Regions from separate parts of the Homo sapiens genome. Here regions 1 and 2 are each linked to region 3. Evidence: fine-mapped expression QTL. A gene starts in region 3. Each other region holds a variant in brackets. All regions are shown on one strand. Distances are from middle to middle.

The links.
Region 1: its variant is fine-mapped to the expression of TMPRSS13 in whole blood (TOPMed, PIP above 0.99). The same link has a PIP of 0.9 or more in blood mononuclear cells.
Region 2: its variant is fine-mapped to the expression of TMPRSS13 in lung (TOPMed, PIP above 0.99).

The regions. Positions count from the first base shown.
Region 1 is chr11:117,989,513-117,997,512 of GRCh38, reverse strand. It overlaps IL10RA (interleukin 10 receptor subunit alpha), which reads right to left. Exons shown (of 7, transcript NM_001558.4): 3 at 7,893-8,000; 4 at 4,103-4,272; 5 at 3,364-3,514; 6 at 1,803-1,924. Among named protein-coding and RNA genes, the nearest start is that of IL10RA, 7.1 kb to the right of the region's middle. RefSeq lists an enhancer at 2,763-2,932. The variant T/C (reference allele first, on the strand shown) is at 4,181.
Region 2 is chr11:117,805,723-117,816,786 of GRCh38, reverse strand. It overlaps a transcript of DSCAML1 not described here. Among named protein-coding and RNA genes, the nearest start is that of FXYD2, 13 kb to the left of the region's middle. RefSeq lists enhancers at 1,531-1,610, 2,400-2,977, 7,212-7,261, 7,312-7,381. The variant T/G (reference allele first, on the strand shown) is at 3,937.
Region 3 is chr11:117,922,834-117,934,134 of GRCh38, reverse strand. It overlaps TMPRSS13 (transmembrane serine protease 13), which reads left to right and starts at 4,733. Exons shown (of 13, transcript NM_001077263.3): 1 at 4,733-4,848. The coding sequence starts at 4,828. RefSeq lists enhancers at 972-1,510, 1,743-1,872, 1,511-2,050.

The DNA of each region.
Region 1 (8,000 bases), 65 kb before region 3:
CCTATTCCTATCACATTGCTTGGTGATTTAGGATGTGTCCTCTAGAGCCAGACTTCCTGGGTTCAAATCCCAGCTCTGACTCTTATCAGCTTTGTCACCCTGACCAAATTACTTACCCTCTCTGTGCTTTAGTTCCTCATCTGTAACATGGAAATAATGACAGTACCTGCCTCCTTATGTTGTAATGTGTCTACAGTGCTTAGAACAAAGTGTGGTACATAGAAGGTGCTCAATAAATATATGTTGAATTGAACTTTACCCTCCAATAATTCTGTAAGAGAAGTATTATTACCTCTATTTCCTAGAGGAGAAAACTGAAGCTCAGAGAAGTTAAATGACTTGCACAAAGTGGCACAACAGTAAAGAACACATCTGGAATTCATCCTCAACTGTCCTGATTTGAAATCCCTTCCTTGTCCAATAATACTTACCTTGATGAACTGTTGAAAGATCAAATCAAACAAGCTAATGAATGAGAACAAACTAATGAATGTGTCAGTGCTCTGTGCATTATAATTTATTCATGTGGTAATGACTACGATCATCAGATGAAGGGATTGAGCTATATTTATCCTGAAGAGAAAAAACCCTCAAGGACAAGTCAGTTCTGTGATCCAAAAGTACAGAAGGGGCAGGGTGCGGTGGCTCATGCCTATAATCCTAGCACTTTGGGAGGCCGAGGTGGGCATATCACCGGAGGTCAGGAGTTCGAGACCAGCCTGGTCAACACCCCGTCTCTACTAAAAATACAAAAATTAGCCAGGCATGGTGGCAGATGCCTGTAATCCCAGCTACTCGGGAGGCTAAGGCAGGAGAATCACTGGAACCTGAGAGGGTGAGGCTGCAAGTGAGCTGAGATTGTGCCACTGCACTTGTCTCTCGTCTTGTTTTCCCTAGAGATCCCAGGATCGCTCTGGAGATTCCCCTTCCAGTTGTGGGGCCCCTGCCTTGCAGACGGAGCTGGTTCCTTCCCAGCTGATCCCTCAGCCATCATGCAATAGTGCCAGCTATGGAGGCTATGGTGGGCAATCTTCAATGCGGCCTGAACTCCAGGCCAGAGACCAGGCCGAGGTTTGGAAAATGCTGCCCAATCTTTGCAAGCTGAGTTTTGGAGACTGGCTTGCCACAAATGTATCATTTGTCAGTACAATGTAGCAAGAGGACACACCCTGGGAGGGGAGGAGGGCTTGGCCTCCTCCATGAGCCCCTCCCTGTCCCCTGCCAGCATCCCCTCTCCAGTGGCGCAGCATCCCCACCGCCCCCCAGTGTCCTCTCTCCTCTGGCCCACTCTGGCAGCAGCCCGAGGACCAGCACTTCTGGCCTTTCCTTCTTTCTCTCTTGTGGAACACCCATGGCTAATAGCAGTAGGAAAGTGGGTTCCCTCCCTGACTCTTCCTGGCTGTGTGGCCCTCTGTGTGTAACAATCTCTCTGTGCCTCAGTTTCCTCACTTATGAAATGGGGATAATAACTGTGCCTCATAATCAGAGATGCAATGCACAGGGGCTAGTCCATGGCCAACTACTAGTAGATCATATCAAAATGGCTCGTGGTCATTGAGATTTGTGATTCCATGTGTCTCATCTGAGCTACTGGATGGCAACATTCTCGGTACTGGGCTTCATGCTCACTTCCTCCCTCTGTCCCCACAGCGCTTGATGAAGGTATCTCCCAATCACATCAGGGCTGAGAGCAGAGGCAAGCTAAGGCAATGGACTGGCTGGGAGGAAAAGAGCTCCCTGCCCTCCTGGAAGCTCGGGTGTGGCTGGGAAGGACGGGGCAGTGACCTCCTTGCAAGACTCACCAGGACACTGGGTAGCTTCTTTCGGCGCCGCACATACAGCTGGAGGGCCAGGCAGTAGGCGAGGGCTCCGGAGAGCAGCAGGACAAAGGCAAAGAAGATGATGACGTTGGTCACGGTGAAATCTGCAGGCCCAGAGAGATGTGTTTGTGGCCTGTCACCATGGGGCACGGTGATTCTGGACATAGGACTCTGGTCCCATGAAATCCATTGCCCACTGTCAGGAACCATTCAGTGAGTGGCCCAAGGCAAACTACAGGCCACAACTCTAGATGTGTCTAGGTTTCTGCGAATCCCTACCTGGCCTTCCAAACCATGCCCTGAAGGATTCCCTCAGGAGATGCGCTAACTGCTTCCAGCTCTCTGCACATGACTCCCATCACAGCAAACAGAACAGTGAGGCAGGATGGTACAGCAGGTAAGAATCGAGGCTCCGGGGGCTGCTAGATCTGGGTTCAAGTCCCAGCTTCACCACTTACTAGCTGTGCAATTGTGGACAAATTAATTACTCTGTCAGAGCCACTGACCTCATAAGGTAGTTGTGAAGTACACAGCACTGACCATGTACCAATACCATCAGATTCTTTTAACTTTTATACTTATAGGAGGTAAATACTATCATCAGCCCCATTTTTACATATTAGGATCCTGAAGCACATAGAAGTTAAGTAATTTGCCCAAAGTCATATACCTCAAAAGTTGTAAAGCTGAGATTTGGAACTATTTCATGTATCAGTGAATGAATGTATGAAAAACTCTTAAGACTGCCTGATACCCACTTAGTGCCTTCCTCTGCATTGAGACTTAAATGACACTGAGCTGTTGAGTGTCCTTCACAAACTGAAATTTGTTGCAGATCTAGCAGGAGTCACTTTCACCTTTGCCAGACTCTGCCCACACTGGACTGGGCCCTCCCAGAGCACTTACTGTTGGCATGTTTCATTGGGCACTGGACATCTCATCTGCTGTCCAATAAGAGTTGCTTGTTACAGTCTCCTCTGTGCACACTCTATCTCCCCAGCCAGGATGCAAGATCCTCCTAGGCAAGACCGTGGCCTCCATGTCCTCTATTATCTCCCTCCCCCTACAGCCCCGGCACCTGACTGACAGCCTGGAGCAGTATTTGCTGACTTTAGCAGCTCTGGCGAGGAGCAGAGCAGAGTAGGGGAAGTAAGGAGAAGCCCTTTGTATCCCTGGCTCTGAGGAAGAACAGCAGAAGACTGTAACAACAGGAACTAGCACAGCTCACTGAAGATGGCCCCGGGGGAGGGGGATGTTGTTGGGAAACACCGCTGTGCTCCAGTGGGAGGACCCTAGATCCAAGAGACCTGGTTCTGCCACCAAGTCCTAGCTGTGCAACCCTAGGAAGTTGCTAATACTGAGCCTCAGTTCCCTCATCTCTAAAATGAGGACAGTAGGACCTCTCTCCTATTAAGGATGCAGAGCTATGTGAAGCAGCACCTAACACAGTGGCTGGCACCAGCATCCCAGGTGCACGCGTTTTGGATTGCACCAGGCCCTCCCAGTCTCCCTCCCCATGCTGAGAGCAGCCCAGCTGACTCACACTGCCTGGTGAGGGAGATGCACTCCTCTTTAGACCACATCCCCTTGTTACTTCGGGAAGCGACAGATGGTTTCACCTGGACACAGAACTCTCCCACTTCTCCAGAGGTTAGGAGGCTGAAGTTTTCATGTTTTACTTTCTTGTGTGTGAACTGAAACAAAAATGATAGCAATTAACAAAATCCTTTTATTTCATGGCACACGGACACTGAGAGCTGGTGGGCCTTTAGAGGTGATTTCAGCCAACCCCCTTCAGTATCCTTTGTCTAAGATGACAAACCCCACAATTACCAATGCAGCACATGATCTCTGTAATGACCACAATTTTATTTTGTATTTTAAAAGAAAAAGCGGTGTTTTATAGATGCTGAAGATCTTCCCAGAAGGGGCTGGAATCAACAGTGGTGGAGAGGAGAGAGGGTGGATTTTGCAGATGCCAGCTCTCCCATAACAGGGGCGCCCTCTGGTAGGTTACACAGCCTCTCAGAGCCTTATTGCTTCATCTACAAGGGCTCTGGGGTGCCCAATTGCCCTAGTAGGCAATTCCTTTGAGGAGCATCTCACAAGAGCATAGCTCTGAGGGCTGAGGTGGTTTCTACTCCCTCCTCTGCCCACCCACCATCCCAGACCCTCCCTTTAGTCCATAAGCAAAGTTCCCAATGGCACACAAGGGTGCTTCCAGCCCAGGGGACAGGGAAGCCAAGGGAGTTCTGGCCCTGGGGCCTTGGGGAACCCCATACCGTGAAGTTTCCCGGCACCTTGCGAATGGCAATCTCATACTCTCGGAAGTGACTGAAGATGCTTTCATATGTGTCATT[T/C]GCGGGGGCCATCTTGGGCCTGGGTAGCTGAATCTTCCCGAGGATGAAGCCATTGTGGATCTCTAGGTTCACACTGCCAACTGTCAGAGTCACTAAATGGAGTTGGGGTGGGGGGGAATACCATGAGACTTGAGGGCTGAGGAGGGCCTGGGTGTCCCCGCCGAGACTTTGCCTCCAGAATTAAGCTTAATTAGAACCTAGGCCTAAAACTTGGCCACAGGTTTGTCAATGCAGCAGAATGTAAGGACTTCTTGGGGAGCACATTAAAAATACATATACCCTAAAATCAGATGCATCAACCAATGGAATATGATGGACAGCCCAGAAATAAACCCACAATTGATTTTCAACAAAGGGGCCAAGAACACACAATGGGAAAAGAACAGTCTCTTCAACAAATGGTGTTGGGAAAACTGGATATTCACAAACAGAACAATGAAAATAGATCTTTGTCTCACCTCTTACGCAACAATCAACACAAAATGGATTAAAGACAAATGTAACACCTGAAACTATAAAAACCACCAGAAGAAAACCTGGGGCAAAGTTCTAAGACTTTGGTCTGGGCAAAGATTTCTTGGATACGATCCCTAAAGCACAGGCAACAAAAGCAAAAATAGACAAATGGGATTGCATCACACTAAAGAGCTTCTGCACAGCAAAAGAAACAACCACTAGAGTGAAGACACAATCTATGAATGGGTGGAAAATATTTACAAATGTTCATTGAATAAGGGGTTCATATCCAAAATATACAAGGAACTCATACTACTTAATAACAAGAAAACAAATAAACCTGTTTTTAAAATGGGTAAAGGACTTGAATAGACAGTTAAAAGAAGACATACAAATGACCAACAGATACATGAAAAAATGGTCAACATCTCTAATCATCAGAGAAATGCAAATTAAAACCACAATGAGATACCACTCCACACCTGTTAGATTGGCTATTATCCAAAAGATGGAAGTAACAAGCATTGGCAAGGATGTGGTGAAAAGGGAAACCCTTGCATGTCGCTGGTGGTGAATTTCTCAGCCATTATGGAAAACAGTATGGATGTTCCTCGAAAATCTAAAAATAGAGCTACCATGTGATCCAGCAATTCCCACTACTGGGTATATATCGAAAGATATTGAAATTAGTGTATTGAAGAGATACCTGTATCCCCCGTTCATTGCAGTATTATTCATAACAGCCAAGATATGGAAATGCCCACCAATGGATGAATGGGTTTTTTAAATGTGGTATGTATATACAACAGAATCCTATTCAGCCTTGAAAAATAGGAAACTGAGGCCCGGCCCAGTGGCTCACGCCTGTAATCCTAGCACTTTGGGAGGCTTAGGCGGGTGGATCATTTGAGGTCAGGAGTCCGAGACCAGCCTGGCCAACATGGTGAAACCCCATCTCTATTAAAAATACAAAAATTAGCCGGGCATGGTGGCACGTGCCTGTAATCCCAGCTACTAAGGAGGCTGAAGCAAGAGAATCTCTTGAACTCGGGAGGCGGAGGTTGAAGTGAGATGAGATCAAGACATTGCACTGCAGCCTGGGTGACAGAGCAAGACTTTGTCTCAAATTGAAAAAAAAGGAAACTCTCATTTGGGACAACACAGATGGACCTAGAGGACATCATGAGCGAAATAAGCCAGGTGCAAAGAGATAAATGCCATAAGATCTCACTTATGTATAGAATCTAAGTAGAATTCTTTTAGAATTCAATTCATAGAAGTAGAGAGTAGAAGTGGTTACCAGAAGCTGGAAGGAGGCAGGTGGGAGAAGTGGATAGGGAACAAGGAGAGGGGTACCAAGTTACAGTGAGACAGGAGGAATAAGTTCTGGTGCCTATTGCACGGCAAGGTGACTGTAGTAATAATAATGGACTGTATATTTCAAAATAGCTGAAAGATAATATTTTAAATGTTTTTGGCACAAAGAAATGCTAAATATTTGAGGTGATAGATATTCTAATTACCTTGATTTGATCATTCCACAAGGTATACATGTATTATGTATACATAACACTGTACCTCATAAACATGTAGAATTATTACTTGTCAATTAAAAGAAAAACTTTTTTATAAAACGTTTTCAACACTTTACTGTTTTTTGTTTATTTGTTTGTTTTTTTGAGACAGAGTCTCGCTCTGTCACCCAGACTGGAGTGCAATGGCTTGATCTTGGCTCACTGCAACCTCTGCCTCCTGAGTTCAAGTGATTCTCCTGCCTCAGCCTCCCTGAGTAGCTGAGACTACAGGTGCACGCCACCACGCCCGGCTAATTTTTGTATTTTTAGAAGAGATGGGGTTTCACCTTGTCAGCCAGGCTGGTCTCAAACTCCTGACCTCAGGTGATCCACCCACCTTGGCCTCCCAAAGTGCTGGGATTACAGCCGTGAGCCACCGAGCCCAGCCCAACACTTTACTGTTAAGCATAATATTTATGGTAGATATGTGTAGATAGATACCTTTCTACAGGTTAGGACATTTTCTTTCTACTTTAACTTTGCTTAGTTTCTTTTTAAATGTTGTTTTCTTTTTTAAATGGTTAATGTGATAAATTGCATTGATTATATTTTTATGTAGAAATTTCCAATAGACAGAAAAGTAGAAGAGAATATAATGATTTCCAAAGTCCCAGCTTTAGTAATTGCAAACACTAGGCCAATTTTGAAGTAATTGGTGGCAGGGGAGGGTCATCAATATCCCCCCATGAAATTTACTTTAGCATTTTAAAGAAAAATCCCAAGCACTGTATTACTTAATTCCTAATTACGTAAGTATGTATCTCTCACATATCACACCTTTGTAAATATAACTACCATGCTGTTATCACATGTAACAAACAAATACCTAGTAATATGCCCTAAAAACCATTTCATATACAAATATGGTGATTTCCTCAAAAATGTCTTTTTATAATTGCCTTGCTCAAATCAAAATACAAAGAAGAACAAAATGTTAAAAAAAAAAAAAATACAGATGCCCTGGGCCCATTCAAGACACAGTTGGTCTGAATTTCTGAGGCTGGGCCCTGGAAATAGATATTTTAAACACACTTGCTGGGAAACGTTTCTGCACCAGCTGAGCAGTGGCCTGTGGGCAGGCATTTGGAAGCCAATGACCTCCTAGACCATCGGCTCTAACTCTGAATCCTACAGAGCGAGGTCTCCATGCACACAAAACTTTCTCAATCCCAACTGGTGGGATGAAAAATCCCACTGAGTTGGGGGCTTATCCTTTCCTCTTACCTCTCCAGAGAGGGATCCATAACTTCTCTTTAGTAGCACTTCCCATTTCAAAGGGATGACCCCTGGGTGTTCACCCCTAAAGAAGCGGGGCGTTCACCCAAATTCTGCCTACTGCTTGCTGCCCTATGCTGAGTGTTCATGGATTCGCTTCCTCTCCCTGAACCCTCCCTGAAAAAACAAGTTCACAGGCCTGGACCTGGTGACTCAGCTGTCCCAACCCACCCCAAGACCTCTCTTCTGTAGGATAAACAACTCCAGTTCCCTTTTAAATCTCAAACAACTTGGGCTATTTTTATCTAACATTCTCCAAAGTCCTGCCCTGTTTGGGCAACTAGTTCTCCGGCCAGGGAGGCTGGCAGACATGGTGAGCTATGGTAATAGACAGAAAAGCTCTAGACTAGAGTTCCTGGCTGGAAGGGACTTCAGAGCCATGTTCTAAGTCAAGGGAGGAAAAGCACCTTCATCCACAGAGAAGCGGGTGTTGGTGACGGTCCAGTTGGAGTGCCGGCTGCCGTCCACAGCCCGCACTCTGGCCCGGTAGCCATTGCTGTGGTACAGGTCCAAGG
Region 2 (11,064 bases), 120 kb after region 3:
CTCTCTCTCTTGTACAGGGAGCAAGGAAGGGGTGCCCCCAAAGAACTGAGCGTCTCCACTGGCGCTGCGTCTAGTGAAGGAAGTGGGCTCCCTGGACAGACGGGTGGGAGTGGAGGGCGTGAGGGGTGTTGTGCTGAAGAAAGGCCCAGGGCAGGGGGTGGTGTAGCGTCTCCTCCCAGACTCTCCAGGCTTCCACCCTCCCTCCGCTCTGCTCGGCAGGGCTGCTGTGGGGGAGATTAGTCGCCTCCCTGTTGATCCATGGCCCCAGGCAGCTGAGCTCTGAACTGCAATTCATCAGGGGCCTCTGGGGCGGGTAATCTGTGCCTCACCAAGCGCCCATTCTTCATTCCTAGCAGGCTGCCTGACAAATGCCTGGCCAGCGGAGATCAGAGGCAAATGCCACGGCAGCTCGGCCCTGTTGTCAGAGCGAGTCACTGGCTGGGAAGATGGATTGGGCCTGGGCCTCGGAGCCAGGGCCACAGCGGCCTCCTTCCGGGACATTGGGAGGGCAGTGCTGAGCCCAGGGCTGCACTGGGAGAGCCACGGAAGGGCCCGAGTGTCCTAGCCTTGGAAGAAAGCCTGGGCCCAGACTCAGTGCCCCCTCCCAGTTTTGGCTGCAGGAGGAGCCTCACAGGCTGGGGACACTTCATAGTTTGCCGTTGAGTGACTGAGGACTTGGGAAGAAATCCTGTTTAGAACTTCAAACGTTCATTCCCAGAGCTTCAACCTGACACTGGAGGGGCAAAGAAGGTGGCATTGGGAGATTGGGGGAGGGTCTCCCCCAGGTGTGGAGGGACCTCATGCCTAGAAGGGACTGGGACGAGCTATGTTCAGGAGTGGCAGCTCCCCAACCCGTTTTGGCAGATTTCATTTTCAGTTTGTAGGCAGTGGGGCCTCAGATGTGAAGGCAAGCTCAGAATTTAGGGAGACTTAGGGTCCCCTGGCAGGGCGGGAGACCAGGGCAGAGCACCTGCCAGGGGACCCTGAGTCTCCCTGAATTCTGAGCTTCCCTTCACAGGGTGCAGGTGACACCAGGTCAGGAACAGTCCTGGAACAGTGGAGGCCCAGCCTGGCCTGTCCTGCTCCTATGGGCTTGCTGGGCTACCTGCTGTCACCCTGAGTGACACCCCGAAGTTCCTCAGCCCCAGGAGGCCGCCAGTCACCGCGGCTGCTACTGTCTCTAGATGTCTAAACTTGGTTCCCTTTTCAAGAAATGCTCACTGTCACTTCCCCAAAGGGCTTCTTTGGTGTCACTGAGAGGAATTCCCCCTGGTGAGCAGGGCAGCAGGGAGGGGAGAAGAGGGCAATGTTCTGAGCTGGGGAAGCAATTTGTGGCCCCGGAAGCCCTGCCTGCAGCTCAGTGCAGACCACACCGTGGAAGGTGGAAAATTGGTTTCACTGCCAGCTCTGCCCTTGGCTTGCTGTGTGACCTTGGGAAGGCCCTGGTCTGTCTCTGGACTTGGCTTTGGAAAAAACAGACACAAGACAAAAGTCCCAAGCTTCAGCTCACACGTCAAGGAGCTGTGACTTTTCAGGGGAAGGGGTAAGGGGAGAGCTGTGGCTGACCCCCTTGTTCCCTCCCGCCCCTTGGATAGCTGTTCTTAGAGAAAAGCTGGATACACCCCCACAGCCCCTGCAAATACACACTTGGCTTCCTCCCGGCAGTGAACACAGAGGCGCCCAGCAAGTGATGAAGGCAGACAAAAAGACACACTTGACAAAGCAAAGGAGATGAGGCTGGCTTGGCCCCGAGCCAGGAGCATGCTGAATTCTCTTGTGGTCTTTGTTTCCTGAATGGCCTATCAATCAGTAACCGAGTGCGTGCCAAACCCAGCCCACACGGGAACCCGGTGTCCTCGGCTCTCCAGTAAATACTACTTCAGGTCTCATGTCCGAGGACCATATGCTCCCAACACAGCTAATAAAATCATCCAGGAGTAGCCTGGAGGCCGCAGACACCCGCCCCAGGGGGCAGGAGGGGGACGAGCCAGGCTGGGCCTCCGCTGTTCAAGAGTGTTCCTGACCTGCTCTCTCTAGCACCCTGGGCACCTGCCAGGGGACCCTGAATCCCCTGAATTCTGAGCTTTGCCTTCACATCTGAGGCCCCACTGCTTATAAGCTACATGAGGGAGGGATTGCATCTGAAAGTTCACCCACCGATCCCAGTGCCTCACCCCCCTTTGGGCACTTAGTGCACCCTCCATACATGTTTACTGAGTGCACACGTGACTGGTTGAGTAGAGGAATGAATGAGTGATTGATTACCAACCAGGTGGACCACCCCTGTCCCTGCTCCATGCCTCCAGGAGCAAGGAAGTTGTGGGGTCAGGGTAGGCAGCTGGGGTGGTCAGAGGTGTGCGTGATCCCTTCTTCCTTGGCCTCACAGCTAAGGTCACAGGCTTTGGAATCAGCAGACCTGGATTTGAGCCCTGGCTTAGCCAATTATGAACTAAGTTTCATGCGCATCCGTGTGAAGAGAACCACCAAACAGGCTTTGTGTGAGCAACATGGCTGTTTATTTCACCTGGGTGCAGGCGGGCTGAGTCCAAAAAGAGAGTCAGCGAAGGGAGATAGGGGTGGGGCCGTTTTATAGGATTTGGGAAGATAATGGAAAATTACAGTCAAAGGGGGTTGTTCTCTGGTGGGCAGGGAAGGGGGGTCACAAGGTGCTCAGTGGGGGAGCTTCTGAGCCAGGAGAAGGAAATTCACAGGGTTAATCACTCAGTTAAGGTGGGGCAGAAACAAATCACAATGGTGGAATGTCATCAGTTAAGGCGGGGCAGGGCCTTTTCACTTCTTTTGTGATTCTTCAGTTACTTCAAGCCATCTGGGCGTATAGGTGCAAGTCACAGGGGATGCGATGGCTTGGCTTGGGCTCAGAGGCCTGACATTCCTGCCTTCATATATTAATAAGAAAAATAAAACAAAATAGTGTTGAAGTGTTGGGGCGGTGAAAATTTTGGGGGAGTGGTATGGAGACAGAATGGACGATGTTTCTCCGGGCTGCTTCAAGCGGGATTAGGGGTGGCGTGGGAACCTAGAGTGGGAGAGATTAAGCTGAAGGGAGGTCTTGTGGTAAGGGGTGATATTGTGGGGTTGTTAGAAGAAACATTTGTCATGTAGAATGATTGGTGATGGCCTGGATACGGTTTTGTATGAATTGAAAAACTAAATGGAATAAGAGAAGGAGAAAAACAGGTATAAAAGGTCTAAGAATTGGGAGGACCTAGGACATTTAATTAGAGAGTGCCTATGGAGATTCAGCATAGTCCTGCCAGCAAAGATTATTTATTTACTTCAAGAGTTAAGAGTGGCAATTTGGAGATAGCACGAGGAGATATCAGCTGTGATGGCTTGGAGAAACAGTATAAACCGGCAGTGTAAACAAGAGCAGGGCATGTATGAGTAGTTGAGAACGGTGAATAGGAGTATGACTAGACAGAAGATAGTAGGGATGACAAGTTTTTTGGGGCACAGTCGAAGTTGGTCTGGTGTCTGGAATGAGACTGGGGCCTAATAAAAAGGAGCATCTATACAGGAGGTTAAATGGGCTGTACCTTGTAGCATTCTGAGGACATGTCTGACTTCTGAGAAGGGAAAGTGGTAAAAGTATTGTCCAGTCCTTTTTAAGTTGGTGGCTGAGCTTGGTGAGGTGTGTTTTTAATAGACCATTAGTCTGTCACTGAATACTAAGAGCCTGAAAAAATGCTTGGCTGATTTGACTAATAAAGGCTGGTCTGTTATCAGACTGTATAGAGGTGGGAAGGCTAAACTGAGGAATTATGTCTGACAGAAGGGAAGAAATGACTGTGGTGGCCTTCTCAGACCTTGTAGGAAAGGCCTCTAAAAGTATTAAAGCAGTGGCAGCCGCTGCACGCAGACATGAGGGCTAGGCTAAAACAGTAAGGTCAAGTTGTTTGCACAGAAAGGCTACAG[T/G]GTGCGGTCCTGGCTCTTGTGTAAGAATTTTGACTGCACTAACCATGCCTAGGAAGGAAAGGAGTTGTTGTTTTGTAAAGGATTGAGGTTTGGGAGATTAGTCGGACACGATCAGCAGGAAGAGCACGTGTGTTTTTACGAGAATTATGCCGAGATAGGTAACAGATGAGGATGAAATTTGGGCTTGACTGAAGTAATGGGGGCTGTCTGTGAAGCCTTGTGGCAGTACAGCCCAGGTAATTTGCTGAGCCTGATGGGTGTCAGGGTCAGTCCAAGTGAAGCGAAGAGAGGCTGGGATGACGGGTGCAAAGGAATAGTAAAGAAAGCACGTTTGAGATCCAGAACAGAATAATGGATTGTGGAGGGAGGTATTGCGGATAGGAGAGTATATGGGTTTGGCACCATGGGGTGGATAGGCAAAACAATTTGGTTGATAAGGCATAGATCCTGAACTAACTTGTAAGGCTTGTCTGGTTTTAGGACAGGTAAAATGGGGGAATTGTAAGGAGAGTTTATAGGCTTTAAAAGGCCATGCTGTAGCAGGCGAGTGATAACAGGCATTAATCCTTTCAAAGCTTGCTGTGGGATGGGATATTGGCATTGAGTGGGGTAAGGGTGATTAGGTTTTAATGAGATGGTAAGGGGTGCATGATTGGTCGCCAAGGAGGGAGTAGAGGTCTCTTGTGGGTTAAGGTGGGGGAATACAAGAGGAGGACGCAAAGGAGGCTTTGGATTGGGAAGAAGGGCAGCAATGAGATGCAGCTGTAATCCAGGAATAGTCAGGGAAGCAGATAATTTGGTTAAAATATCTCGGCCTAATAAGGGAACTGGGCAGGTGGAGATAACTAAAAAAGAGTGCATAAAAGAGTGTTGTCTAAGTTGGCACCAGAGTTGGGGAGTTTTAAGAGGTTTAGAAGTCTGGCTGTCAATACGCACAGCAGTTATGGAGGCAAGGGAAACAGGCCTTTGAAAAGAAGGTAATGTGGAGTGGGTAGCCTCCGTATTGATTAAGAAGGGGATGGACTTACACTCCACTGTGAGAGTTACTTAAAGCTCGGCATCCGCGATGGTCTACGGGGCTTCCAAGGCAATCAGGCAGCCTCAGTCTTCAGCTGCTAAGCCGAGAAGGAGTCAGTCAGGGAGCCTTGGGCCAGAGTTCCAGGGGCTCTGGGAGTGGCTGCCAGGTGAGTTGAACAGTCCGATTTCCAGTGGGGTCCCGCGCAGATGGGACACGGCTTAGGAGGAATCCTGGGCTGCAGGCATTCCTTGGCCTGGTGTCCAGATTTCTAGCACTTGTAGTAAGCTCCTGGGGGAGGAGGTTCTGGAGGAACGCCTGGCCGCTGCAGTTCAGGCGTTTGGAAGTTCTTGTGTGCTGGAGATGTAGCTGGGGTTTGTCTCACAGTGGAGGTAAGGAATTGCAACTTTTTTTATTATTGTACACCTTGAAGGTGAGGTTAATTAAGTCCTGTTGTGGGGTTTGAGGGCCAGATTCTAATTTTTGGAGTTTTATTTAATGTCGGGAGCAGATTGGGTAATAAAATGTATATTGAGAATAAGATGGCCTTTTGACCTTTTAGGGTCTAGGGCTGTAAAGCTTCTCAGGGTTGCTGCCGAACGAGCCATGAACTCGGCTGGGGTTTTATATTTGATGAAAAAGAGCCTAAACGCTATCTGATTTGGGATAAAGAAAAAGGAGCATTAACCTTGACTATGCCTTTAGCTCCAGCCACCTTTTTAAGAGTAAATTGCTGGGCAGGTGGGGGAGGGCTAGTCACAGAACGAAACTGTAAGTCAGACCGGGTGTGAGGAGGAGAGGCGATAAAAAGATTACAGGGTGGAGGAGCGGAGGCTGAGGAAGAAATGGGACCTAGCTTGGTCTGGCGAGGAGGGGAGAGGTCAGATGGGTCTGTAGAAAAGGAAGATTAGAAAGACTCAGCGACGCTTGGGGTTGGGACTGAGGGGACAGGCGGGAGGGAAAGAAGGAAGATTTGGGACGAGTTGCACTGGGCACAGAGACTAGGAAGGGACTGATGTGTAAAAGAATGCGTGGACGTCAGGCACCTCAGATCATTTGCCCATTTTACGACAAGAATTATTTAGCTCTTGTAGGATGGAAAAATTGAAAGAGCTGTTTTCCGGCTATTTGGAACTACTGTCGAGTTTGTATTGGGGTCAAGCGGCATTGCAGAAGAAAATAAGACACTTTGATTTTAGGTCAGGTGAGAGTTGAAGAGGTTTTAAGTTCTTAAGGATACAGGCTAAGGGAGAAGAAGGAGGAATGGAAGGTGGAAGCTTGCCCATAGTGAAGGAGGCAAGCCTAGAGAAAAGAGTAGAGATACGGAGAAGGGGGTGGGGGTTTCTTGCCCTCCAGAAAAGCAGAGAAAGGGTTGGGGCACGGAAATAAGGGATTGGGGCACAGAGATAAGAGGTCGGGGTGCGGAAATAAGGGATTGGGACACAGAGATAAGAGGTCGGGGTGCGGAAATAAGGGATTGGGGGTTCTTGCCCCCTAGAAAAGCGGGACTTGCCACTAAGGGTGAAGGAGAAGGGGTTGAGGGGTACTTGCCCCTCCCCCAGAGGGCGCTGGAGTTTTGAGTCCACGGAGTTTTGGGTCCACGGAGTTTGGGTCCACGGAGTTTTGGGTCCACGTGTCTCCTTTGTCTCTATCAGAAAATGAAAGGAATTGAAATTAAGAGAAGGGAGAGATTGAAGTGTGGCGCCAAGATTGAAATGTGAATATGTATGTATGTGAATGTGTGTATGTGTGTGCGAATGTGTAAGTGAGTGTGTGAATGTGTGTGAGTGTGAATGTGTGTGAAAATATTTGAATATGTGTGAGTGTGGGAATGTGTGTATGTGAATGTGTGTATGAGTGTGTGTGAATGTGTGAGTGTGTGAATGTGTGTATGTGAATATGCGTGTGTGTGAATGTGTGAATGTGTGTGTGAGTGTGTGGGTGTGTGTGTGTAAGAGTATGTGAATGTGTAAGTGAGTGTGAGTGTGTATGTGACTGTGTGAGTTTGTGTGTGTTGTGCGTTGCTAGTTGAGCTGGAACTGGGGAGGAGCAGAGCAACCCAGGAGGGTTGCGTGGGTGGACCTAGCATCTGGAGCGCTGCGCGGCGATTCAGCCTCCTCAGCTGAGAATCAGAGGTCTGTTTTGGAGGACACCATTGGTCCCCTCCAGTAGTTCTTAGAGGCTGGCAAGGACACAGGCTGGGGCAGGGAGTGAGCCCAGCCTCCGGCTTCACTGCGAGACATGACTGGGGTGAAGGGCAGGACCTGTGTAGTGGAGAATTTGAGTGGCCGCCGTCTATGTTGTACTGCACAGCAGCCTGCGGCGCCACCATCCTGTCCTGTGGCACTAGGGGGAGGCAGACACCAGGTTCCCAGTGCGGAGGCCTGGAGCTTCCTTCCGCGGAGGACCGCAGAGACACATCCAGTAGTGGGCCAGGGAGGCGGGTTGTCCTCTCCAGCCATCAGAGCCACGCCCAAGGAGTCAGGCACAGCGGGGAGGAGGGCTCCCCTCCCTTCCCACAGCTCCCACCCTTCCCACACTGCACTTTCCAGGAGTGCAGACGCGGCAGCTGGCCTCCCAGGACCTGCCCCACCCTGGAGGTCTGCACTGAGCCCCTTCGCCAAATGAGGCAAGACTTCTCCTGAGCCTGGGGTCTCAGGGCAAACTCCTGAGGTCGCCTCTCCTAAATCTGAGGCATTCCCAACGGATCTGGAAGATTCATTCTCTCTGGATGGATTTTTCCTCCTCTCAAGCTTCGCAGTGGAAATGATATGAAGCAGGGGCGGGGCAGTGACGGAGCTGCTAGAGCAGGGTAGACAGGCGTGGGCGTGAGCTTGGCTCGGTCACTGACCACCTGGGCAGCCCTGGGGAAGTCCTTTAGTGTCTCGGAGCCTCAGTTTTCTCATCTGTGAGATGGGGTTTGTGATATCCAACTCATTAAAGAGATTGAACGAGATCATGTGTGTAAATGAGATATGTACGCCACAAAGTGCTGCGAACATGTAAAGTGGGTGAGGGATGAAGCAGTGTTCACCAAGGCTTCTGCTGGGCTGGGTGATTGCGTGTTTTTCAGCCATTTATTATTCAGCAAATTTTTGTTGACTATCAAGTATGTGCCAGACACTGTATTAGTGTTTTTGACAAGCTTAAGTGGATAGTGTTTATGAAACTACAGAACATAAACCTTCTAGTTTATCTTCTAGTTCAGGATTTCCCAAATGCCAGCCCCAAGACCTATGCTAAGCTTCTTACATCCAAATACTGGGAAACAGAAAATACAGATCCCGGATTCTGTAGTCTGGGATCTCTCTCTCCTTCACCTCACCTGTGCCTGTGTGCATGTGTAGTTGTGTGGTTTCGGAGCCACTGAGACCCAGAGATGGCAAATGCTCTCAGGGGATAGCATGTCGCATGCCAGGGGCTTCGGGCATGCGCCTATTATCTTTTCCAGAGGGGCAGGGACAGCCCAGCCATGGTCTCAGGACTCCTCCTAAAGGTTTGACCCATAGGAATGTGTCGGCAGATTGCCCAGAATATAGAGTCCGAAGGCCTTCTAATTCTATATTTTGTCACTTAATGGCTCTGTCATTTAGTGCCTGCATAATTTTTAGCAAGTCACTCTCTTTCTGAAGCCTCAATTTCCTCATCTGTAACATGCGGATATTGATGTCTGTCTTGCTGTGGTATCTTCATGTGAGCATACTTTGAAAACTGCAGGCCGGGCGCGGTAGCTCACGCCTGTAATCGCACCACTTTGGGAAGCCTAGGCGGGCGGATCACGAGGTCAGGAGTTCAGGACCAGCCTGGCCTACAAAGTGAAACCCCATCTCTACTAAAAATGCAAAAATTAGCTGGGTGTGGTGGCATGCACCTGTAGTCCCAGCTACTCGGGAGGCTGAGGTGGGAGAATCATTTGAACCCAGGAGGTGGAGGTTGCAGTGAGCCGAGACCACGCCTTTGCACTCTAGCCTGGGTGAAAACTGCAAAGCTCCAATTTTTAACTCCGACGAAAGCCAGAACCAGACTGAGTTTTCAAAGGAGAAACCCTTCAGGCTGAATTTTCTTCCACTTCTTCCAAGTCCAGCTGTATCTAATATTGAAAGATAATCTCCATGGAGGAGCCCCCATCCCGCCCAAAGGTTTCTCATACTCAGTCTTTGGGCGACACCTGCTGGCCATGGCAGGTACTGTGACCTTCTCTAGCTAAACAACTCTGCGGAGAAAACTTGCCCATCTCCTTAGACATTCACAGCCACGCTGCAGGGTCGGTGTTCTGTTCCCACTTCCACAGACCAAAAAGGTGAGACTTGGTCCTCCCAGCTCATGAGAAGTGCGGTGAATCTCTGACTCCAGGTTCTTGGCTCCATCTCATCCCTTCTTGCTCTTAGGCTGGGCGGAGTGGGGAGTCATTTCCTCCCAGGCAGAGGAGATCTCCCACCCCCCAAATCATTCTGAAGTAGGTACTGGGATTTGGGGCAAGGCCAGGGTTGGAGCCTAGGACAGGCCTGGTCAAGAAAGACTCATCCTTGTGTCAACAACCCCACCAGGCAGACCACCACATCCAGTTCCCCATCTGCAGAGCAACTAGACTGATGGCAGGGGCTTCAGCGATAAAAATTCACTCTGAGGAGGCAGAGAGATGCCATTTGGTCAGGCTGTGTGGTGAGGAGCTGGGGACAGGCTACCCGCTGAGCCTGTTGCCTCTGTGCCCACTGTGTGGGGAAGTGGCTAGCCTGAAATCTGGCGTGTGGCTTGGGGGAAGCGGGTGCCCCGGCCAAGGAACTTCTCAGTCAGGAGGCAAAAAGTATTGTGATTGAGAAAGAGGATTTGGCCTCATCCTTGAGAGATGCACACAAAATGATCAATGGATGAAATTATGTAACACAAGAAATTTGCTTCAGAAAAATTCATGGTGATGGGAGGGGAGCATAGATGAAACAAAAAACTGGCCATGAGTCAACTCTTGTAGCATCTGGGAAATGAGTGCATAATAATTCGTTATACTGTTCTCCCCACTTTTGTATATTCTTGAAATTTTCCATGTTCAAACTTTAAAAAATGTAACAGCAGTAACACTACCACCACCACCAAAGTCAATACATAGAATGATGAGTTTGAAATTAGACTGCCTTGAGCATCTGACGCTGCGTGAATTGGACAACTTAGTTAATTTCTCTATGTCTCAGTTTCACTGTCTGTAAAATGGGGATGATAATAATCATACCAGTCTTATAGGGTTGTTTGGAGATTATGCATCTGGAGTAATTAGCATAGTGCTGGGCCCACAGCAAGTGCTCAATTATAATCATTGTTATTAGTAGGAGTCCAGGACTCTGATTATGATTTGCCAAAAGAAGAAGCTACTTTGGCTGATGCAGACAAACAATTAGCCCGCCAGTTCAGCTCAGAGTTTGGACCGATGAGTCTTTGAGGACACAGCTCTGAACTGCCATGTGCCAGATGTGTGGGTGTCTCAGATGGGTAGACACACCATAGAGTCAGGCTTTCCTGAGCCCCTGCAGGGAGGCCTTTTCCCTGCCTCTCTGCATATCCTTCCCATTGCTCAAGCCCAACTCACATCCTACCTTGGTTTTTACTGACCACTCCTTTCTCTGAGCTTAAGCAGCTCTCTTCACAGACTTATCGAACCCCTTGCCCTAGGTGAGACTGTAAAGATCATCCAACCCAGCCACATCATCATAGCTTCATTCGACAAACAGTCATCAAAGACCTGCCTTGGGTACTGAGGATGGAGTGGTGAACAAGGTGGGCAAGAGTCTGAAGGCAACAGGGCCTAGGAGGGAGGTAAACACCACTTAGCTGAGCGCAGGCCAGGCGGTCAGGAGCCCTGGACCTAAGCCCTGACTCTGCCATGTGACCTGGGACGCCCTTCACCTGCCAGCCACTGTTTCCTAGGCACTTGCAGGAGATGCTCCCCAGGTCCCTTCACACTCTGACCTGCTGACTCTGAGCATGTAGGCTTCCCTGTGTTGCTCTTTAAACATCTTCTACTCCACTGGAATGCAAGCTTCCTGAGGGCAGGGACTCTGTGCTAGACTTTCCAGGGATCGGGGAACTCCTTGCACAGGGGCTGGGCACAGAGTTGCCAAAAG
Region 3 (11,301 bases):
CCTGAACAAGACACAAAGGGGCAGTAAACTCCATGACTAAGAGAAACCCTGGGGCCCCTGCGTTTAAGATCCTAGACTGTCTGAACCACAGGCCTACTGGGGAGTCATCAGGTGGTCTTTTGGTTTCCTGCCCACACTTATCTTCTGGCCTCCCCTTCGGGTGTCCCAGTCCTTTCTCCCTCCTCTTTCCTCTTTATCCAGGGGAGAAGCCCAGTATCTGCTGGAAATAGGGAACCTTAGAGTTGCCCCACCAGCAGAGTCCCCTGAGAGCCTCCCTTAGAGCTGCTGAGAGGCTAGCTGGGGACCAGGGACTCGGTATGGACTCATGGGCTGTTTTCTCTTGGCTTGAAAAAAAAATCTCTCCACATGATCTGGCCTCCTCTTATCATATCTGGATGACCTAGCACCTGATGTGAGTCCTGAGGCAGTGGCGCGGCTGGGCTGCGCTCAGGGTTCAGCATTAAATCTTAGGGGAGATTTAGATGAGATTCCAGAAAAGGGAAAATTAACCTCTAGTGACAGGAAGCAGATCAGTGATTGTCTGGGGCTGGGATGGGGTGGAGAATTGACTGCAAGAGGTGGGAGGAAACTTTTTGGGGTGATGGGGATGTTCTAGATTTTGATTGTCATAATGGTTACACAGGTGTGCACATTTGTCAGCCTTCATTTAATTGTTAACTTATTATTGATGCATTGTTAATTTAAAAAAACAAATCTTAGAACAGATTGGTAGCAAGTGCCATGTTCAACAAATGGTCAGGCAGGCACCAGTTTGCTTAATTCTGAGGACTCCTGTTCAGCCACAACAAAGAACATGTAAGCCATGCAGATTCATGGAAGACCAAAAATGAAGTAATACGGCACAAAAAAGAAGGAACTCAGGGTGGAAATTCACAGTGAAGACAACAGCTCTCTAGGGCTCAGGTCTGCTCTGTGCAGAGAGGGAGCTCACCCCCTGGGAAGAGGCCTTCCTTGCTCTTGGTTGGCCTGGATGTTTTGAGCAGCTGGGACAATATCCTGCAGAAAGTAGAAGGAATAATCACGAGGGGAAATGGGGCCCTGCTAACATGTGAGTAATAAAAGGGGGAGACAAAATCCAGATGGAAAGCTGATCCTGTCTTTACTTAAAATTCTGATATTTTATTCACCTTGGACTTTTCCCGTTAATGCAGATTTTAAAAATATTTCATTAAAACATGATTTATCTTGATTATTTGGGCACGCTCTTAAATTGTGCAGCCTGGGCAAGTGCCTCACTTGATCACTGATGTCCAGCCCCAAGGGAAAAGCAGGAAGAGAGAACCAGCCTCTAGTCCACAGAACTCAATGGCGATCAACCTCTGCAGGCCTGGAGTGGGGAGAGGCACGGCTAGGACCACAGCCTGGAGGGACCCAGGACGGCCCTGGAAGGCTAAGTGGGGGCGGAAGAGACCTGCCTGGGGCTGCAGCTGGGAAGACTGCTGGGCTTGGGGGGTGGGGCAGTACAGACCATAGGAGCGTTAGGTGTGCTGGGCCCAGGGGTGGCTCCTGGTGACTCACCCCCTTGAGGGTGGACCCAGTGTCTCCCCTCTGCCACACTGAGTCTTTAAGTATGTAGTTGGTTTCCTGGCTGCCCTCAGGCCTGGAGGGAAACCCACCTATTGTGCCAAGAGTGGTGGAGAAGCTCAGAAGCGGGGTGCAAAGTGGGGAAGGGTAGGCAAGGGCTCCAAGCAGGGAGTTGGGAGGTGATTCAGGGGTGAAGCTGCTGATAGGCTCAGGAGGGAGGAACATGGGCCCGAGGTGGGAACTCCAAGGAAGATAACAAGGCTGGGAATAGAAGGCCCAGAGCTCTGTTTCCCAGGCTGGAGCCTCAGGAAGGAGTTCCCAAGGCACTGGGGTAGTGGTAGCTAGAACAGCCATGGAAGCAGAGAGCTAGGAGTTTAGTCTCAAAACAGTAGTGAGATTTTCTCACACCTCACTCTCCTGGACAGCTGCCAGGAGATGTGTGCTTGTTTGCATGGCTGACATTTTTCTGTAAAACTCCCTTCACTCCACATGGAAATGACCCAGGTAGGAAATGACCAGGGTACAAATGGGCCTGATGGCTGGCCTACACTCTCCCTGGGGCGTTGAGGGAGCAGAAGGTGGGTCCCAGGTGCTGCCAATAGCCTCTGGGTGTGGAGTAGCCAGAGGTGGGCAGGTGTCTTTCCAGAAGGCAACCAGGGAGCTGAAGGGAGAAAGCCAGGGACCAAGGCCAGAGAGAAGGAGGCAAAGGAAAGGGTGGGAGTCAGAGAGAGCCTGGGATTGTACAGTCAGGAGGACAGCAAAGGAGGCCGGGAGGAGGGGGAAGGAAAGGGCCAGGCCAGGGTCAGTGGGGAAGTCAAAAGCGGTGCAGGCCTCTAAGTCCAGCTCTGTGGGGGAAGCATCCAGGTCTTGTGCTGCCGCAGCGCCTTCACTCTGAAAATAGGAAAACCACCAGCTAGGAATTTCATTCCTCAGTGTCCCCCCGCCACCCGCCCCAACACATCAACTGTGTGTTCTCCCAGGGCAGGGCCCCTGCCTTTCTGTTCTTTGCCCACCACTCTCACTCCCCAGCAGCCACCGTGGGCCTGGTGCTGAGCAGTCAATCCTTGCTGAACTGAACTGCCCTTGGTGGGGATGTCACACGGGTCAGACTGCTTTGTCAGCGAGGACTCTGGGACAGGCCAACTTGTGTCTCTGATGCAAACCAAGGAAAAGAGCAAGAGGTGAAACTGATGTTCCTTCCCAGCCTTCCCAGTGCCCTGTGCCCCGTGCCAGGCACTTCCTCTGGTTCTATGTGTTCTCATTTTCCCGATGGTGAACCTGTCAGGCCTTGCGAGTTCCCCTCAGAGTTAGGGTTCTCATTCCCCCGAACTCGCCCAGACCCCCAAGCCTGAGCTCTTTCCCTAGGTTGGTGGGACCTTCAGGGAAGGAGGCTGAGGGTGCCCTTCGGAGACCAGTGGCCTGCCTGGGGGATGAAGTGGAGGCCCTCGGATCTGGCCTGGGCGTGCCAGGGCTCAGTGGCAGCCAGAGAGGGGCTGGGCTCCTCCCTGGGAGAGAGGGAAGAGGAGCAGCTGAGGACAGGAGGTGGGTATCTTCTCAGGAGGATGGATGGGAGGGGCCCCTTTGTCATGGTGGGCTGGTGGATGGGGCAGGAAGGGGATGTGGCCTGTGGCTGAATTCTGCTCTCTTTGAAAGCCAGGGAAGTGGCTCCCACAATAAGCCAAGATGAGAGAACTCTAGGGTCCCTGCCTGGGCCCTCCAGAGTTCTCTCCTCCAGCCTCTTGCCTCTGGGTTAGATTTCCCTCAAGACACCCTAAGCTGGGGCACAGTTTCCACTGTGAGCTAGAAGTTTCCGTTTTCTTGAATGTAAATGGGGGGCGATAGTAGTCACTTCCTTTCAGTTTTTGCTCAAATATGTCACCACAGAGAGCCCTCTCTGACCATCCTGTTCCCAACTGCCAGGACTCTGCCTCCCCTACCTTCTGGATCCTTTCGCTGCTTTGTTTTTGTGAACGGCACTTTTCACTTTCTAGGAGGCTGTGTAACTGATTTATTGATTTTTGTCTGCTTTTTCCCCCCAACCCGCAAATACTAGAGCCACAGGGCAGGAGGCTTTGCCTATTTTGTTCCTGTGTCCCCAGCACCTAAAGCAATGCCAGGCACTCAATACATATTTGTTGAATGAACACGTGAAGGATGCGTGTGAAGTGTTTCGCAGGATTCTTGGCATCTTAAGATTATTGCTGCTGCTGTTGTTTGCTGTGTGACTTGAGCACATTCCTTAGCCTCTCTGGCCCTCTGTCTCGCAGTCTGTAAAATGAAAAGAGTGAACCACTAAAGATCCATGAGCTTCTTTCAAACTCTAAAAATCTTGGTGCCTCTGAATGCTCAAGAAAGTTCTTCCCAAACCTCAACAGGAACTCCTTTTTCTTTTTTTTTTTTTTGCAGTTCTCAGCAGCAGCTCAGCTGGAACTTAGCCGGAGGTGCTAAGGACTCCTTTTGCAATAGCCCTTCCTTTACTTCTTTTGACTCTGAGGATCAGAATAGGGTATAGGTTTGGGATCACGAGTCAGCCCAATGTTTCTTGGAACAGTTTCCATTCAGATAGTTATGTTTTATTTCATTGACTTTGATGTGTTGCTTCTGGCACTTTATTGTTTTCAATAGAGGGCAATTCATGATGTGCATAATTAAAGGTCATTTGATTTTCATTTCTTTGTTAAGAGTTTCATAAAAACAAACAGAGTTCAGGAGAAAGCAATTGCCAGACCATGCGCCCAGAGACCATGTGCCCTGATTTGGGATTTGGACACCTGGTCCTTGGAGATGAAGGTTCCCACTGTCCTGCCATAGGTGGGGCTCTGCCCCTGGCCTGGAACGTCCCCTGTGGGGATAGGGTCATCCCTCAGAAGGCTCTGGAGCATCTGTTTCAGGGGCTCAGGTCAACAGGACCAAGACCATCCTCTCAAGGCTCTGCCCTTTCTCTCAGGGCCCCTCTGAAGAAGTAGCTCAGAACACTCCTCTGCTTCTGTGGGGGCAGTTTCATGAGTAAAGGCAGCTTCAGGTTCCCGGTATTTGGAATTTGGTATTCGCTGAGTAACTGGGATGGCCTCGATGAGGGGCAGAGGAACAGGTCTGGCTAGTTCTGTGTTGTTTATACTGGGGATTACTTCACACGTCCCAACCGGCTTCCCCGCCCCATTTGGTGGGGGCTGGCCCTTGGCCCTCCAACTCCTTTACCCTACATGCCTGAGAAGCCAGGGACCAAGATGGATCTTCTCCTCGACATCAGCTAAGCCTGGAGGACTCTTCCCCTCAGAGACCATGGAGAGGGACAGCCACGGGGTGAGTGTGACCTCAGGCCTCGGGCCAGATTCTCCCAGCGCTGAGGAAGCAGGGCTGAGGCTGGGAGACAGGTGGGACAGCTACCTCTGTGTTTCAGGTTTGGGGGAAACTGGCTGTGCCTCTTCTAGTTTGAAGCTACTTACGATCAAGATCTCTTGGTCTCCTTTTAACGTGGTTCTAGAAAAAGCCCCTGGGAGGAGAAGCTGCTGGGATTTGGGGTCTGGCTGGTGAGCACCCCAGGGCTATGTGGCTGAGTCGTGGGTTTCCTGCTCTGTGGTCTGTGAGCACTCCTGCCGGGCATCCATAGTGTTACAGCACCAACTTTGCCGATTGGGAATCCAGGCTAATCTACTTTAATCTCATTTTTGCTGGTTGGAAAATCAAAAGCATTCTAACTGCAATTCAGGGGCATCTTGTCTAAACCCCTCACTACACTCCTAAACCTTCCCAGAAAACTGTGACTTTCTGGGTGCATTCAAGATTTTCAAGGGGATGTTTCAACCTCCGTTGGTCACTTCTTTTTGGACTTAATAACTTTCATGCTTGGGAAGTGCTTCTTGATGTTTAACCACAAGTCCTGCTACCACTCAACTTCCTTTCTTCTGCTGCTCTTGGGGTAGGAGAAAGCAGCTGGCCTGTCCTCTGTGGGAAAGCCAGTCATACACACATGAAGGCTTCCAAAGATCTTGTTCTGCTGTGCCTCCACTTTCTTTTCCTCCAGGAAATCCCTTTTGTGCTCTCATTTCTCCTTTAGGTCTTGTTTTCTGCCCCCTCCAAATTCTCTGTACCTTACCGACATGGTAGAGCCTGGGACTCTGGGAAGAATGGGCTAGCACTGGGTTTGGGAAAGATCAGCTCATCCTATGTTTTGGCTTATAGTTGGCTTGTGGTCCATTCTGCACCCCCAATGTGTTTCTGCAAACTTTACCATCATTTTTTTCCCACCATTCTTCCAGCCCCCTCTTGACTTTTCTTTCCCAGGCTGCCTCCCTTGCCCTCTGCTCTGGGCTCCTTCGTTCATGTCTCTACCTCACCAAAGTCACTTGGCCCTAGGCCTTGGGGGGTTATCAGAGCCTCTTACTGTTGAGCAGTAAGGGGGGTACACAAGGGCATGCAGAAGGTGAACCCTTAGTCACAGCCATGGGGCATCCTCCTTGGCAATATGCTGGGAGCCTAAACTAGATGGTCCCTAAACCCAAGAGTGAGAAGGGCTGAGCTATCCGGAGGGTGGCCATGCTCCCACTGGAGATGGATAGTCCATCCCTGAGACAGGGTGATGGGGCGATATCTTCCCAGGAAGCTCATCTCTTCAGAGTCAGGGATCAACATGAAGGCTGCTGGAGGGATACAGGACAGAGAACAGACTTCTTTGAGGAACTCCCAATTAATCTATGAATTAAGTGTCAAATATTATGATAGGTGCCATATTCATTCTGAAAAAAAGATTGTCCAAACTTACCTTGGAATGGAAGAATGGAATCATTACATTCTTATTTAAGGTTCTTAACTTCACTCCCCTATTTAAGATGGAACTCTGAGAGAGTGAGCCTATAGTTGGGGCTCGTATTCCCATCTGCAGCAGGTTTCTTAACCTTGATTAAATAGGAGTGGTCTGGGAGAAGCTGGTCACCTGAGCTTGTGCCTTCTCCTTGAGGGCTTTATTGCAGAGAGATGCATTGTGATTTCTGTCCCTCAACTCCAAAATGTCGTGAGGAAGATGGTGGCCAGTGGGCTTGAGCCTGATGGCACTCCTCTGTCAGCTGCTGGATCTTCAGAGGGATCTTGGAAAAGAGGTGGAGAAGGGTCTCAGTTTCTCATATTCAAAAGAAAGTTGCATGTCGTGGTGGACAGAGAACTGACCATGTTCCCCGTCAGCTTTGGGCAAGCCACTTCACCTTTCTGTACCTTAGTTTCTTCATCTGTAAAATGGAATAATAATACTACTCTCAAAAGAAGAATGTTGGACAAACTAAATTTAACAGAGTTTAATTGAGCAAAGAACAATTCTCAAATGGAGCAGTCCCCCGAAGGAGAATAGATTCAGAGAGATTCCCACACAGCTGCGTGGTCGGAGAGGATTTATGGACAGAAAAAGGCAAGCAGTGTATGGAAAAAGGAAGTGAGGTACAGAAATAGCCTTATTTGAACACTGTTTGAACAGTTGGCTGCCTTTGATTGTGCAAAATTGGTGATTGTTAACAAGAGTAGTTTACAGTCTGTTTACACGTCCAGTTGAGTTATAGTTCATTATGTACAGAGAAACCTTTTGATCCGAACTTAAAATATGTAAGGAGGCAGCTTTAGGCTAAGCTTAATTTAATAATACCTACCTCAAGGAGTCTCAAAATAGTGTCCTTCCCATAGTAAGGCTCATTTAGAATAGCATCTGGCATAGAGAGATAGAGATAGATAGATAGAGATGGAGTCAGAGAATGTTGAAATTTATCATCACTGCCTAGAATTTGGGGTGGGCTCCTATAAATTTGGACAAACATCTTCTTCTACCTGTGCCTCAGCTTCCCCACCAAAGAAGAGGGTTGGACACATTCCCCCCTGAGGCTCCTTTCTGGCTCCCTGACAGTCTGGAATTACATAGAACGGGGATGACAGGTGCGCCACACCAGATTTGTTCTTGACAATGCGTATTTTGTGCTTTTTCAATTCTCATTTTTAATTCTCAGAGCAGTGCAATGCTTATTAAAGAAAGACTGAATTAGACCCATTGATGAAGCAACATTCCTTTGTGGAGTGGATTTTCTTATACTGGGCCTTCTTCAAGTGGAACAGGTTCCAAATTAGCCCAAGGCCACAGGTGCTAGGGATTGGTGAGAACCGTCTGGGGGCCCACCGCTGGTCCAGGATAAGGCACCCTTTCCAGAGGAGCTGGGCAGTTCCTGAGATGGCTCACCCGCGGGTCAAGTCACTCTGCCATGCCGTGTCCCAGCCCCATCCCAGCCCCAGGCACCCCAAGGACCCTGGCACCTGCCCTATGCCCCTGCAGGTGTGTAGCCCTCACCTCGTCCTCCAAGGACCCTGGCACCTGCCCTATGCCTCTGCAGGTGTGCATCCCTCACCTCGTCCTCCAAGGACCCTGGCACCTGCCCTATGCCCCTGCAGGTGTGTAGCCCTCACCTCGTCCTCCAAGGACCCTGGCACCTGCCCTATGCCTCTGCAGGTGTGCATCCCTCACCTCGTCCTCCAAGGACCCTGGCACCTGCCCTATGCCCCTGCAGGTGTGCAGCCTTCACCTCGTCCTCCAAGGACCCTGGTACCTGCCCTGTGCCCCTGCAGGTGTGCAGCCCTCACCTTGTCCTCTGTTTCATGTTGTCATTGGTGAGGAGCAGACTTCCTTTGGCACAGCCACCTCGATTTCCCCTGCATTGTCCCCTGAGACTTGGCAGATGTGAGCGTAAGCGTGCGGGAGTGTGTGTATTGGGCCCTGGGCTGGGGAGCTGGGTGGGAAGGACAACTGATGTAACAATGGCCACTTAGCTTAAGTGTCTTGTTTTGGCAGAACAGATTCCTCTTGGTATAGCAACAACAAGGGTGGATGTGCCTGGCCAAGTGGGCAGGGCACTGGTGGTGCAGGCATGAGGGAAGCCACCACAGGGAACCCTGGCTTTAGCCGTCAAGTGGAGGCCTTGACAGCACCAGATGGGGGTTGGTTTCCCTAGGAGGGAAGCAATACCCAAAACTTTAGAGGGGCCCCCATTATGTACCAGCCCTGAGTGTGTCACTACCCTAGGACTGGCAGCAAGAGAAGGCACAGACACAGGGAAACATTGAGGCAGCAAGTTCCTGGGCAATCAAACATTATTTGCTGGGCAATAGTGGGCACTCCATGTTCTTTACAGCATTTGATAAATGAATGAATGAATGAGTGAATGAACGAATGAATGAACAAGGAGGCGTCTTGATTCTGGTCTAACAGGGATTCCTTGAGCTTTTTCATGTGCACAGGAGGCATCGGAAACTAGAAGGGACTTCAGCACTTACTCTGGCCAGTCCCTTTCAAGTTCGTTGTAGCAGCTGCCTCTTTTGTTCAAATGAATGTTATGTTGACTCCGCTGTATGAAACTGAAAGGTCGGTCTTCTCTGTTGAGGTGGGGTAAGGGCTCAGAGCCCACCACAGTCCCCACCAGCTGGTCTGCAAGGCACCTCCACGGAAACTGAAATGCTCTGTGGAACCCTGTTTGAAAACTGCTGATTGTCCAACACCCTTAATTTATTGAAGAGGGAGCTGAGGCCCAGAGAAGGATGTGACTGTCCCCAAGGTCACACGGCGGCCTAGGAGCAGAAGCGAGGCTCCCCGTGCCCCCCACCCCCAGGGCGAGGCAGACCCTGCAGCTCTGGCCCCTTCCAGAGTTCAGTCTGCCTCAAGGGCTGACCCAAGTCCCTGAGCTGTATACTGCGTGTGTGCTGGAGATGCTGGTGCTGGGTGAGGAGGTGGTGGGGAAGATGCCTGTGTGCTGAGGAGAGCCTGTATTTGTGGGGTTTCTCTGGGTTCGGGGAGGGGGAGAGTAGGAAAGGGCCTTGGGAACCTGGAGGTACAGTGAAGCCTGGGTCTAGCCGTGAGAAAGGGAAAAAAGTCACCCAGTCCAGCCGGGCCCTCGCTGGGAAGGGTTCAGGCCTCCCCTGCCACAACCCCAGGGCTCCCCAGGTTCCCAACAGGCAAGGAGGGTTTTTAGGCTCTGTCAAAGGGAGATCCTGATCTTTCTCAGTGCCGCCAGTGCTTCCAGAAGGGTTTAGTGAGGGGTTTTTCTTCCTGCCTAGCCCAGAGTGCTGGGTTGTTGGCCCATGGTCTGCCCGTGCCCACCCTATGGGCGCCCTTGATGCCCAGGGTCACTGGAAAAGGGACGCTGCCACGGGGGCCTCTGTCTGGGAAGGGTCCTTTCTCATGGAGGCTGGTAAGGGACAGAGAGGGGAAGAGCAGAGTGTTGTGTAACAGCCCAAGGATGGGGGCCAGAAGATCATGGTTCTAGAATTGGCACCGTCCCCACCTGGCTGTGTGTCCGTGAGCAAGTCACACAGCCTTTCTGGGCCTTCATCGCCTCAACAATAGTATAAAGGGCTTGGGTAGGTTTTCTTTTCTTTTCTTTTCTTTTCTTTGAGATGGGGTCTTGCTATGTTGCCTAGGTTGGTCTTCAGCTTCTGGCCTCAAGCCATTTTCCCACCTCAGCCTCCCAAGTAGCTGGGACTACAGGCCGGCGCCACCACGCCCAGCTTAGAGGGTTTTCAGAATCTTTGCAACTCTGACAGCCTGTGATATGCCCAACCCTGGGTGGTAGCTTTACGAAGGGATGGCCCAGGGCTGAGGAGGGAGGCCCAATTGGCTTAAACTGGACTGAAACGGGCCCTGATGCACCCGCCCTCAGGCCATGAAGCAGCTACTGCTCCCTGCTGGACATTCTTCAGGACTAGAAGGAGAGCTTTTTTTTTTTTTTTTTTAATTATTATACTTTAAGTTCTAGGGTACATGTGCACAACGTGCAGGTTTGTTACATATGTATACATGTGCCGTGTTGGTGTGCTGCACCCATTAACTCGTCCTTTACATTAGGTATTTCTCCTAATGCTATCCCTCCCCCGTCTCCCCACTCCCCGACAGGCCCTGGTGTGTGATGTTCCCCATCCTGTGTCCAAGTGTTCTCATTGTTCAATTGCGGGAGAGCTTTTTATAGGGTGGTTCACACTGCAAGCCCAGGCTCTGGGGGACCTGAAGTGCATATTTCCCAAGTTCAGGCTGCTGCTTATGGCTGAAGAACTCTCATTATGCAGAGCCTGGGGCTCGATCCACAGCAGCAGCTCCATAACCACTGAGATGAAGCAACCATGAGCCCACATCACTCAGGCCCCCTCTCTCACTGGCTGGGCCCCCAGAAGGTCCAGGAGAGGACAAGAGCTGGACATACTCAGGGGCTGGCTAACTTACTACCATCCCCACCAGGTAACGGCCCAAGGGGCAGAGTCTGCAACTGGAAACCAGAAAAACATCCCATTCGCCTCAGGGGGGATCTAACCCTGGGAGCTGTGGTGTCGAGACCCCTGGGCTGGAAGTGGGGGGCCTTGGGTTTAGTCCCTCCTCTGCTGTGAGATGGGCCTGAACAACTTTGGGCAAAGCACACAAATGTTTTGGGCCTCTACCTCTCAGTCTGTAAAGTGGGAGTAAAAATGCTTATAGACTTCTGTCCAGGGACAGGCTTTGGAAAGACTCCCAGAGCCAGGGGCTGCTCCTTTTAGCCCTCCCTGGCTTGTCCCTTACCGCTTTCCTGCGGACCCCTGCCCTGCCTTCCTGCCCCAACACGTCTGGAGGGCCCTGAACAAGCCTTGGGTGAGGACCCTTGGGAGCTGCAGAGGCATAGCCAGGTGGTAGCAGTGACAGCCTGGGGTGTGGGCCTGTTCCATGTCATGGTAAGGGCTTACAATTGTGTTACTGCAGGGGGTAACCTCAGA